Linked DNA regions of Homo sapiens. The protein of the gene in region 1 purifies or fractionates together with the protein of each later gene. This does not show direct contact. Each region holds a gene or a part of one and is shown in the gene's direction. Other genes may lie near its edges. The genes, in order: CAPN13, SAFB and DIDO1.

Region 1 (3,649 bases):
GCCTTGGCATTCAAGGAAATAACCAAAACAGGTGGGAACAGCTGAGGATTATTTGCTGTGTAGCCATCTTGTCTGGCCCCTGCCCACCTCTGCACTGCATTTTCTAGCATCCCATCGACGTTGTGAGCTGTCCTTCCAAGAAGCATCTTTCAGCCCACCCCAGCCTGAGATAGTTTCCAGGGCTTTCAGACGAGAATTCCTGCTGACTCTGGTGCCTTCTAAGAGGACCCTCAGATTTTCCAGCTCTCACCTCTGGGAAGAAAAGGCTAAAGGCAGAAGGAGAGATTTGTGAAAGGCTGAGAAGGAACTGAGGCCCCTGGTCTGCCCAGCCAGGACTGACCAGGTCAAGCACCAAAGAGGCCTACTAGAAACATCTCAGCCAACTCTTCCTTCTTCTGAGCTAAGACAGAAGCCCACAGAAGGATCAGAGCTGCCCCGGCACACACGCAACTTCTGAGGCTCTGTTCACATGGGTGACCATGGGCCTTGTGTTGATTCACCCAAAGTCTTCACAGTTCAGGAACCCTACCAAGATTGTAACCACCCCATTTTTAAAATGACATCAAGCCCACTTTCCTACTTTTCTGCCAGAGATGTGTTACTTCTCACCATTCACCAATTTGCTGAAGGAACTCTCAGACCCAAGAGCTCCTCAGGCTTCCTGGAGATCCCAGCAGATCTTGCAAGATCCTGATTGAGTTAAATGTCAAAGAACAGTTCAGACCTGGACAACTCAAATGACACTGGTTGCTTTCACAGTTCAGCTGAGAAACAACAATGTACCTGCCAGCAGCCAGGCTCTCAGAAGGCTCCAGGGCTCAAATGGAGTTCCAGGGCTCCAGTGCTGACCTGCTGATATGATGATGCTCCAGCCCTGGCATGGGTCTGTGACTCCCCAGTTGCTGTGGGAGCACTGCTCTGCTTTATGTCCAACCAGACCTTGATGGGATATGAATAGGCAGGGAGAAGACAGGACAGTGAAAAGGATGAGGGTGGATGAGCCATTTCATCCTCACCTCCCTCAAAGTTCCTCCCCAAGGCCTGGACTTTCCACCTTCCTCCCAGCTCACCCTTGGCCTCCAGAGAAGTCGGCTAAGAGGTCTGTACACATGGGTGGGGCCCAGTGTCAACAATGGGAAATAATCAAGCCAACTAAGGAAGACATCACCTGGTGGTGACAGGGCTTGACTACAAAGCAAGCAGCACAGCTTCCCCGATTCCCAGCTCTGCTACTTAAACTGCTGAGCCTCAGTTTCTACACCCATAAAATAGGGAGCCCAGCATCGGCTTGCAGGATTATTGTGAATATCCAACACATTACATAAAAGTGCTTTGCAAACCGTAGAGAGGCTTACAATGGAACTGCATTCTCAGGTATTCCTTCTACTACGTGAAAAGACTGGAACATGGGTATCTCCCCATTCATAGGCACACAGACATTCCTACAAGCATCAGGGGTGGGAGTGCAAGAACGAATTCCCATCTATTTACAGTGGCCTGATAGAATAAAAGAAGTTGACTTCTCAGGGAAGCTCCCGATGTTAGGGAGCTTACATTTGCGCCAGGTTCTGTGCTATCTGTCAAAATCTCCCCCTTCCTTTCAGTGCGATCATCATTGCTGTGAAGAGTAACCACACCTTTCAGGGCTGACCAAAGAATACCTCCTCCTCTCAGACACCTCCTTTTCTGCCTCAGTTTCCTTCCTCTTGCTGTTCTCTGCAATTGAGTGGGTTTCATTTTTCACAACCTCACACAGAGCATGAGTGACCAGTCATCCCAGTTCACCTCTAGGTGTGCCAAGGAACAGGCAGGCCACACAAGGAAGAGGAACGTGTTCCACTTATAAATTTTTTGAGGTTATCCTCATTGATCCATTCCATAAAACTATCAGAGGAAATCTTGACACCCAGCAGATCACCAAATCTATCCACAAGCATGGGGAGATGTGTGGGCTGACATCCTCAGGCTGCAAGAGCCATGGCCTTGGAAAGGGCCGTAAGTTCTACCACGCTATTGGTGGTTCTCACCATGCAACTTGGAGAAGGTGCAATATTCTCCAGCTCTAATGTTATCACAGATATAAGTAACGTTTGTAAAATTCATACCTAATAAATTTAGAACAGTCATGTCTGCTTACAGCTTTATGTGTCTGTTAAAACTCGTCTGCAGATTGGTCCATGAATGCTTTGTTGAGTCATGAAAGTTAGAGTGCAATAGTGTTTGAAGACTCTAAGTGATGGTGTATCTTGTTTCTAATAAGAAAAATTTCTTTTGTCTTTACTTCATCTTGTTAGACAGTGATATGTCAGTGTTTAAAACATCCTTTGTGGTGGCCAGGCACAGTGGTTCACGCCTATAACCCCAGGATTTTGGAAGGCCAAGGCAGGCAGATCCTGAGGTCGGGAGTTCAAGACCAGCCTGACCAACACGGTGAAACCCCGTCTCTACTAAAAACAAAAATTAGCCAGGCATGGTGGCACACATCTCTAATCCCAGTTACTCAGAAGGCTTGGGCAGGAGAATTGCTTGAACCCAGGAGGCGGAGGTTGCAGTAAGCCGAGATTGCACCATTGCACTCCAGCCTGGGTGACAGAGCGAGACTCCATCTCAAAAAAAAAAAAAAAAAAAAAAAATGCTTTATGGCATAACAGATATAAAATAAATTCTTTAAAAGAGAGGAAGAAAAGGAGAAGGAATGCAGGGATGAAACCAATGAGCCAAGCTGTTCGGTTCTGCTTGCCTTTTTGTTTACGTCTGAGTTCCTAAATCTGCCTTTCTCCCTGTTTCCAACAGGCTGGCTCACAGGTATGGCTCAGCGTCGTCCTTGCCCTGCGCCTCTGCTGCTGTCTGCTGGTGGAGTGTTAGGCCACTTCCAACGCCCATGGCCTCCACGTGTTCAGTGGCTGCAAATTCAGTCTCGCTAAGTCTTACATCAGACACAGGCCTAGAATCCCCAAACAGGTTCACAAAGCAGGAGAATAGTTAGGTGTCCTGGTCTGAAGCTTCGACCCTTTGAGCTGTTCTCTTGCTAACATTCAAGTGAAACCATCCTCAGGCCCGTGGCCTCTGATAGAGAAGATTGATGGAGATGGTTCCTTTTTATTTAAGATGAGAGCAGCACTAAGGGGTACCTTGGAAAGATCTTTAGCCTCCTAAAGTAGTCAGTCCCCAAATCCTCCATAAGCAGGATGCATGCTCTCCAAATGCAGCTTCAAGGTACATCCTTGAGCCCGTCTTGCAAGAAACTGCCACCCTCCTAAACAGATCATCTGGCTCAGGATTGGTGAAAGGTGACTTGCCCATATGAGGAAGGATGGAGAAAGACAGGTGGAGTTTGGAATACCTATCCTCACAGGCACTCAGACCCACCTCTCTGCCCATGGCTGAGAGTGCTGAGCCACCAAGAGGGAGGTGCATCTGCCTGGGGACCACAGATGAAAGAGAGGAGCAAGATGTGGCCACAGACAACAAAGAGTGATTACAGCACCTCCAGGCCTTCCAGGGGAGCCTGCCTGTGACAGTGGTGGCCCAGCCACAGAGCGGGGGTCAGGATCTGACTCTGGTCCCTGACATCCCAGCTATGAAGTGGAGGGTTGGGATGGGCATTGAGAGAAGCACTCAGGTGCAAGGAGCCATCAGCGTCTCAGGT
Region 2 (3,649 bases), on another chromosome or scaffold:
AGCCTCCGGAGTAGCTGGGACTACAGGTGCGTGCGTGCCACCATGCCCAGCTAATTTTTGTATTTTTAGTAGAGACAAGAGTTTCACCATGTTGGCCAGGCTGGTCTCGATCTCTTGACCTCATGATCCACCCACCTCAGCCTCCCAAAGTGCTGGCATTACAGATGTGAGCCACCGCGCCCGGCCTGTTGCTTATTTTTGACTGGCTGTTTCCTGAAATCACTTGTCAAGCTCCAGGAAATGTTGGAGAAAGGAGGCCCAGTTCTGATCACACACACACAGCCTGGGCCTCACTCCTGAGATCTTCCTGGGCTGCTCCTGTGGGCCCGAGAAGCCTTCTTCCCGCTGGAGTGTACGGTTCTGCAGACCACGTAGTGGACGCACAGCCCTGGAGTCTGTGCGACCCAGCGTCTTACTTAAAGTCAGCCCTGGGACCTGGCTGGGGGTGTCTAGGTCCCCTTCTGCAGCTCTACTGTTGTGCAGCAGGGTGCGTGAACGCAGTGAACGCGAACAACGCATGCAGGCGCAGTGGGAGCGCGAGGAGCGTGAGCGGCTGGAGATTGCCCGAGAGAGGCTGGCCTTCCAGCGCCAGCGGCTGGAGCGGGAGCGCATGGAGCGGGAACGGCTGGAGCGCGAACGCATGCACGTGGAGCACGAGCGCAGGCGCGAGCAGGAGCGCATCCACCGTGAGCGCGAGGAGCTGAGGCGCCAGCAGGAACTGCGCTATGAGCAGGAGCGGCGGCCCGCGGTGCGGCGGCCCTACGACCTGGACCGGTAAGCAGATCCATGCTGCCCTTAGCACGTGGCGTTCAGAATCGTGTTAGGGACCTCACAGTCCAGTTAGCTTGAGATTTTTTTTTTTTTTTTTGAGACGGAGTCTTGCTTTGTCGCGGAGGCTGGAGTGCAGTGACCCGATCTTGGCTCACTGCAAGCTCTGCCTCCCGGGTTCACACCATTCTCCTGCCTCAGCCTCCCGAGTAGCTGGGACTACAGGCGTTTGCCACCTCTCCCGGCTAATTTTTTTGTATTTTCAGTAGAGACGGGGTTTCACTGTGTTAGCCAGGATGGTCTCTATCTCCTGACCTCGTGATCCACCTGCCTCGGCCTCCCAAAATGCTGGGATTACAGCTGTGAGCCACCGCGACCGGCCAGCTTGAGATCTTTCATTCAAAGGAAGCATAGGCCGGGTGCGCTAGTTCACGCCTGTAATCCTAACATTTTGGGAGGCCAGGGTGGGCGGATTGCCTTAGCTCAGGAGTTGAAGACCAGCCTGGCCAACATGGCAGAACCCCGTCTCTACTAAAATACAAAAAATTGGTCGTGGTGACAGGCGCCTGTAATCCCAGCTACTGGGGAGGTTGAGGCAGGAAAATCGCGTGTACCCAGGAGGCAGAGGTTGCAGTGAGCCAAGATCGTGCCACTGCACTCCAGCCTGGGCAATAGAGTGAGACTCGGTCTCAAAAAAAAAAAATTAGAGACAGGAGGCTGGATAAAGTAGTGCTGGTTAACTAACCAGGTTCAAGGGTGGCACAGACCTCCTGAGGAGGGAAGCTCAGGCACGTAGAGAGCGCCACACGTGCCCTACTGCACCTCCTTTAAGGCCCTTTCCTTTTTTTTTTTTTTTGAGATAGAGTCTCGCTCTGTTGCCCAGGCTGGAGTGCAATGGCGCGATCGCTGCTCACTGCAACCTCCACCTCCTGGGTTCAAGCGATTCTCCTGCCTCAGCCTCCCTAGTATTCGAGATTACAGGCACCCACCACCACACCCGGCTAATTTTTGTTTTTTTTAGTAGAGATGGGGTTTTGCCATGTTGGTCAGGCTGATCTCAAACTCCTGACCTCAGGTGATCCACCCACCTCAGACTCCCAAAGTGCTGGGATTACAGGCGTAAGCCACCACCCCCGGCCTTGTCCTGGCTTTTTAAATCCATTGTAATTTGTTTTTGCTTATTCTAGAAATAAAGAATTAAAAAAAAATTTTTTTTTGAGACGGAGTTTTGCTTTCGTTGCCCAGGCTGGAGTGCAATGGCGTGATCTCAGCTCACTGCAGCTTCCGCCTCCTGGGTTCAAGCAATTCTCCTGCTTCACTCTCCCAAGTAGCTAGGATTATAGGCATGTGCTACCACACCCGGCTAATTTTTTGCATTTTTAGTAGATACCGGGTTTCACCATGTTGGCCAGGCTGTCAAACTCCTGACCTCAGGTGATCCACCCACCTTGGCCTCCCAAAGTGCTGGGATTACAGGCATGAGCCACTACGCCCGGCAGTAAGATTAATTTTAATTTCTCAAACATACTGAAGAGGAGGTATGAACACAAAATGCTGAGCATGGCTGCTGTGAGGAGTCAGGTGTGTAATTCCAGCAGTGATTGTGTCAGGCTTTACACGTGCACTGCAACCTGGCAAAAATTGCTGTTTGTTGTTTCTTTCTATTGCATGGGTTGAAGAGGAGCCCAGGTCATATATACAATGCAACTTCTATAAAGGGCCTTGTAAACTGTTCTAGGATCTATTATGCTTTGGTACGAAATCCTTCTGATGACAGTTCATTATGGTCATCTGTGTATTGCAGCAGTACATGGCCAGGGCTGCTGGCAGGGCAGGAGGTCAGCTTTGGGGCGAGAGAGATGGCAGGTGCACTTGACAGAGCCCCTCGGGGTGGAGGCTCACGTGGTCTTCCTGAGCGGAGGTGGCTGTGTAGGGCTCCAGAAGCCATCTGCAGGCAGCCCATAGGACTGACTGCTTAACTAATGGCTCCCTCTTTGGAAAACCGAGGCCGCTTTTCATCAGGGGAGGTGGGTGCATGGGACAAAACAAAACAACTGTGCAGTCACTGGGGTCAAATCAGACCTTGCCTCCTATAGGAGAGAACACTCTTGGTGAAAGTCATCCTGGTTCTGTGAAGTGCTAGGGGCCAGCTCCCACAAAGGTGATAGATACATTTGGGGTGGGGGATCCCTCTATCTCTGTCTCATGTCCCCTCACAGGCGAGATGATGCCTATTGGCCGGAAGCCAAGCGGGCCGCCCTGGATGAGCGCTACCATTCTGACTTTAACCGCCAGGACCGCTTCCACGACTTTGACCACAGGGACCGCGGCCGCTACCCCGACCACTCGGTGGACAGGTCAGTTGGGCCCCTGCTGGGCGTGCGGGTTTTCTTTTTCCTGGCTCATTCTGACTGAGAACAAGGACTCCTGGGCTCTCTGAACCCACTCCGTTCATCAGATGTATGCTGAGTCAGACCCGCAGGTCTCCTGCCTTCAGTTAGGGAAATTATGCTTTTCATTGGGGGCCTGATGGTCCTCTCTTTGTGAACAAGCCTCTTCTTCCCCTTACGGTTTGATTTAAATTGCCTTTTCAGGAGAGAAGGTTCAAGGTCAATGATGGGAGAACGAGAAGGACAGGTAAGTCTGAAGCTACAGTGGTAGCCACAGAATTTCCCATAGAATGGGTTCTTTTCCCTTCAGCGTGCCTTCTTCCTGCCCTTTCTTTGAGCAAGAGGCAAAATGAGGAAAGAGAAAAGTAAAGCACTAGAAAAGTCTAGGTTTGTGGAATGGAAATTTGGGATTATTTGGGGTTAGTCTTGGCTGTCAGTCCAAACAGTTACTCTGAAGCTGTTTTTAGCCTTGACCCTGGGGTTCTGTGTGC
Region 3 (3,649 bases), on another chromosome or scaffold:
GACTTTGCATCTCACCATTGAACAGCCCTAAACAGAAATGATTTCTTCCTTCCTTTGTTCCTGACGCTACCTTTTTGACTTGTGTCCACCTTGTGTACATAATTGTTTTTCCTGAGGTGTTGTGTGTTGTTTTTTTTTTAGCAGAGCCAGTGCAGCACAGGCCGTGAAACCCACTGTTGAACCTTATTACCTGTGCTCTCTGGGCTCCCATTTGCTCACAGCAGGGATATCCTGGGGCGCACTCTCATAAGGCCGTTTGGGGAGTTAGGTCACACCCTGCAGGGAGGGCTCTGCCCAGTGCCACACGCAAGTGGGCCCTGAGGGCCTTTGTCCTGTGCCCGCTAAACTTCTGGGCAGCTGTGTTTTCCAGAAGCTCTCTGTATTGACAGATATAGGAATATTATTTGAGTAAATGAAAAATACTTGTTTATAGGGACTCTTCCATCGTGTTCTGCGTGAGGAAATCTCTTTGGCGAAACTTGTGAGACTGAAGCCAGAAGAACTTGTATCTAAAGAGCTTTCCACGTGGAAAGAGAGGCCAGCGAGATCTGTGAGTGCTGAGGGGTACCTGCGGAGGCACCCAGGACTCGAGCTTAATAGAAATAAATTCATAGACGGCTGCATAAGCGATGCTTTCCTCCTAGAAAACAAGGCCTAAGCTCTGTTTCGTCTTTTTCATTTCAGGTGATGGAGTCCAGAACTAAACTGCACAATGAAAGCAAGAAGACGGCCCCCAGGCAGGAGGCCATCCCCGATCTGGAGGACTCTCCGCCAGTGTCGGATTCAGAGGTAAGCATTTGGGAGATTTTGTGTTCACCGAGAATAGACTAATCCATCCCAAATGTTTTGAGGTTATCTTAAATTATTGGGCAGGACCTGAGCTTACAGCAGGTGTATGTCATTGTGGCATTCCTCAGTCCTTGTATTAGATGGTCCTTTTTTCTCCCCCGTGGGTCTCAATCCCATGAGACTGCTTTTCTTGTGTGTGGTTAATTTGGAGCTGAGTTTGGAGAAGAAACGACCTCACTTTTTTTTCTTTTTCTTTTTTAGGAACAGCAAGAGTCAGCACGTGCTGTCCCTGAGAAGAGCACAGCGCCGCTTCTCGACGTCTTCAGCAGCATGTTGAAAGACACCACCAGTCAGCACCGCGCACACCTCTTCGATCTCAACTGTAAAATTTGCACAGGTGAGCACAGTGCAGGGGATGGAGCCTTGGAGCTGAGACTAAACTTGATTTTGTTAAAAATCACTGAACCTCCTAAAAGCAACCGCACGTAAGCTTAAACACGCAGAAGGGCCAGAATGATTTCCTGCCCTGCCTTTAGAGTATTGCTTTCGGCTTTGTGTGAGAAACACCAGTGTGCCGGCTGGGTTTCTCACAGAGCCTTTCCTCGCCTTCTTCAGGCCAGGTTCCCTCCGCAGAAGATGAGCCAGCTCCGAAAAAACAAAAATTGTCAGCTTCTGTTAAGAAAGAAGACTTAAAATCAAAGCATGACAGCTCTGCACCTGACCCAGCTCCGGATTCAGCTGATGAGGTGATGCCGGAGGCTGTGCCTGAAGTTGCCTCTGAGCCAGGCCTAGAAAGTGCTTCTCATCCAAATGTGGACAGAACGTATTTCCCTGGGCCTCCAGGAGATGGCCATCCCGAGCCCTCCCCGCTGGAAGACCTGTCCCCCTGCCCAGCCTCCTGTGGGAGCGGGGTGGTCACCACCGTCACAGTGTCCGGCCGGGACCCCAGGACCGCTCCAAGCAGTTCATGCACAGCCGTGGCCTCCGCAGCATCCCGCCCAGACAGCACCCACATGGTGGAAGCCAGACAGGATGTGCCGAAGCCTGTCTTGACTTCTGTGATGGTGCCCAAGTCCATACTAGCTAAGCCATCCTCATCTCCTGACCCAAGATACCTGTCAGTTCCTCCGTCACCAAATATCAGGTGCGTACTTCAGGTGTGGTCTGAACAAGCCAAACTTTTTTTTTAGATTAACGAAAGGAAAGATAACTGGTGATTAAATAGTTGAACTTGGAAATGTAACCTGAAATACAGCTTCACTCTTTCATCTTTTAAAAAGCCCCAGTTGTAGGGTGCCTTATTGTCCTTTTGGAAGTAGAGATCTTAGAAATTGACATTTAAATTTGTGCTCATCCAGTTTTGTTGCCTATTCACTTTATTTTTCTTTAACCAAAATGTCTGTATCATTTTAATTAAAGTAAGTAATTGGCAAAAGTAAGCTACCAAAAACGTAAAACTTGCAAGCGTTCACTTTTGCTTTTACATATAAAGTCTTTGTACTCTTGAAGCCGGGCACAGTGGCTCACACCTGTCATCCCAGCATGTGCTTGAGCCCAGGAGTTTGAAACCAGCCTGAGCAACATGGCAAAACTCCATCTCTACAAAAAAGACAAAAATTAGCTAGGTGTGGTAATGCACGCGTGTAGTCCCAGCTACTTGAAAGGCTGAGGTGGGAGGATCACCTGAGCCTGGGAGGCGGAGACTGCAGCCAGCTGTGTTGCACCACCGCACTCCAGCCTGCATGACAGAATGAGATCCTGTCTCAAAAAAAAAAAAGGCTTTCTACTTTTGAAATTCTCATTGCACAGAGAGACATTGACTTTTTTTTTATGGTTTTGTTTTACAGCACTTCAGAATCACGTTCCCCTCCAGAGGGAGACACGACCCTCTTTTTGTCTCGACTCAGCACCATTTGGAAAGGATTTATTAACATGCAGAGTGTGGCAAAATTTGTCACTAAGGCGTATCCTGTCTCTGGGTGTTTTGATTACCTCAGTGAGGTTAGAACCAAGAAAATGTGTGTGCGTGTGTGTGTCTTTCATAGGAGTTTCTAAACTAGAGTCAAACACATGACTTTCTCCCTTAATTCATGAGGTAGGAGAGAAACAGAAATGCCTGACACTCTTGCAACCGTCTGTCTGGATGCAGAAACGGCTCTAAATGCAAAGTGGCGATGGCCGTGATGAGTCCGCAGGTTCAGCAGTTTGGACAGGGTCGGAAATGTGAGCCTGCAGTCTGGCCTCTCAGTGATCGGTTTCGCTGGGGCACTGACCACATGGCTGTGCGCACAGCCACCGGCACAGCCAGGTGTTCGGAGCCTGCTTTACACACACCTGGCCACTTGCGGGGTGGCGCATATGACCCCGTGGCAGGCCTTTTAGTTTTCAGAATTAACCAGAAGACAGCACTAGCATTTATGACTTTAATGCAAGGAGTCACCCTGGCTCATAGTGAATCGTTACTCTCTGTGTATGTACGTAAAGACAGCATAGAAGTGTTGGGCAGTCATTTCTAAACATAATCTTGTCTGGCAGAAGGTTGGCATCACTCCCCCTTTGGATTTGGCCACTTGTCATCCTGGACTTAATGCATTTAATACAAGTGTGACTCTTTTCCTTGGAATAGCTGTAGTCTTCTTGAATCTTGGGTAGTGTGTGCCTTCACATGGCTGCATTCGTCTTTCTGTGACTACTACAGTTCAAAGTGATTTACGCAAAGTACTTTCTGTTTAGGATTTGCCTGACACAATTCACATTGGTGGGAGGATCGCACCGAAGACAGTTTGGGATTATGTTGGCAAACTCAAGTCTTCTGTGTCTAAGGTACCTGCTTATAGTATAAATTCTGCAACCATGGAAA

What was found.
Region 2: the proteins of CAPN13 (region 1) and SAFB purify together in Homo sapiens (affinity purification with mass spectrometry; one large-scale study listed by BioGRID and IntAct). This does not show direct contact.
Region 3: the proteins of CAPN13 (region 1) and DIDO1 purify together in Homo sapiens (affinity purification with mass spectrometry; one large-scale study listed by BioGRID and IntAct). This does not show direct contact.

What each region holds. Positions count from the first base shown.
Region 1 is NC_000002.12:30,744,879-30,748,527, reverse strand, and holds part of CAPN13 (calpain-13), read left to right. Parts: intron 1-107; coding exon of another isoform or gene 108-173; exon of another isoform or gene 174-2,126; intron 2,127-2,793; coding exon 2,794-2,805; intron 2,806-3,649.
Region 2 is NC_000019.10:5,661,035-5,664,683, forward strand, and holds part of SAFB (scaffold attachment factor B1), read left to right. Parts: intron 1-483; coding exon 484-774; intron 775-2,987; coding exon 2,988-3,125; intron 3,126-3,362; coding exon 3,363-3,405; intron 3,406-3,649. UniProt on the Homo sapiens protein: Binds to scaffold/matrix attachment region (S/MAR) DNA and forms a molecular assembly point to allow the formation of a 'transcriptosomal' complex (consisting of SR proteins and RNA polymerase II) coupling transcription and RNA processing.
Region 3 is NC_000020.11:62,891,950-62,895,598, reverse strand, and holds part of DIDO1 (death-inducer obliterator 1), read left to right. Parts: intron 1-433; coding exon 434-550; intron 551-684; coding exon 685-789; intron 790-1,050; coding exon 1,051-1,186; intron 1,187-1,404; coding exon 1,405-1,933; intron 1,934-2,636; coding exon 2,637-2,790; intron 2,791-3,522; coding exon 3,523-3,612; intron 3,613-3,649. UniProt on the Homo sapiens protein: Putative transcription factor, weakly pro-apoptotic when overexpressed. Tumor suppressor. Required for early embryonic stem cell development.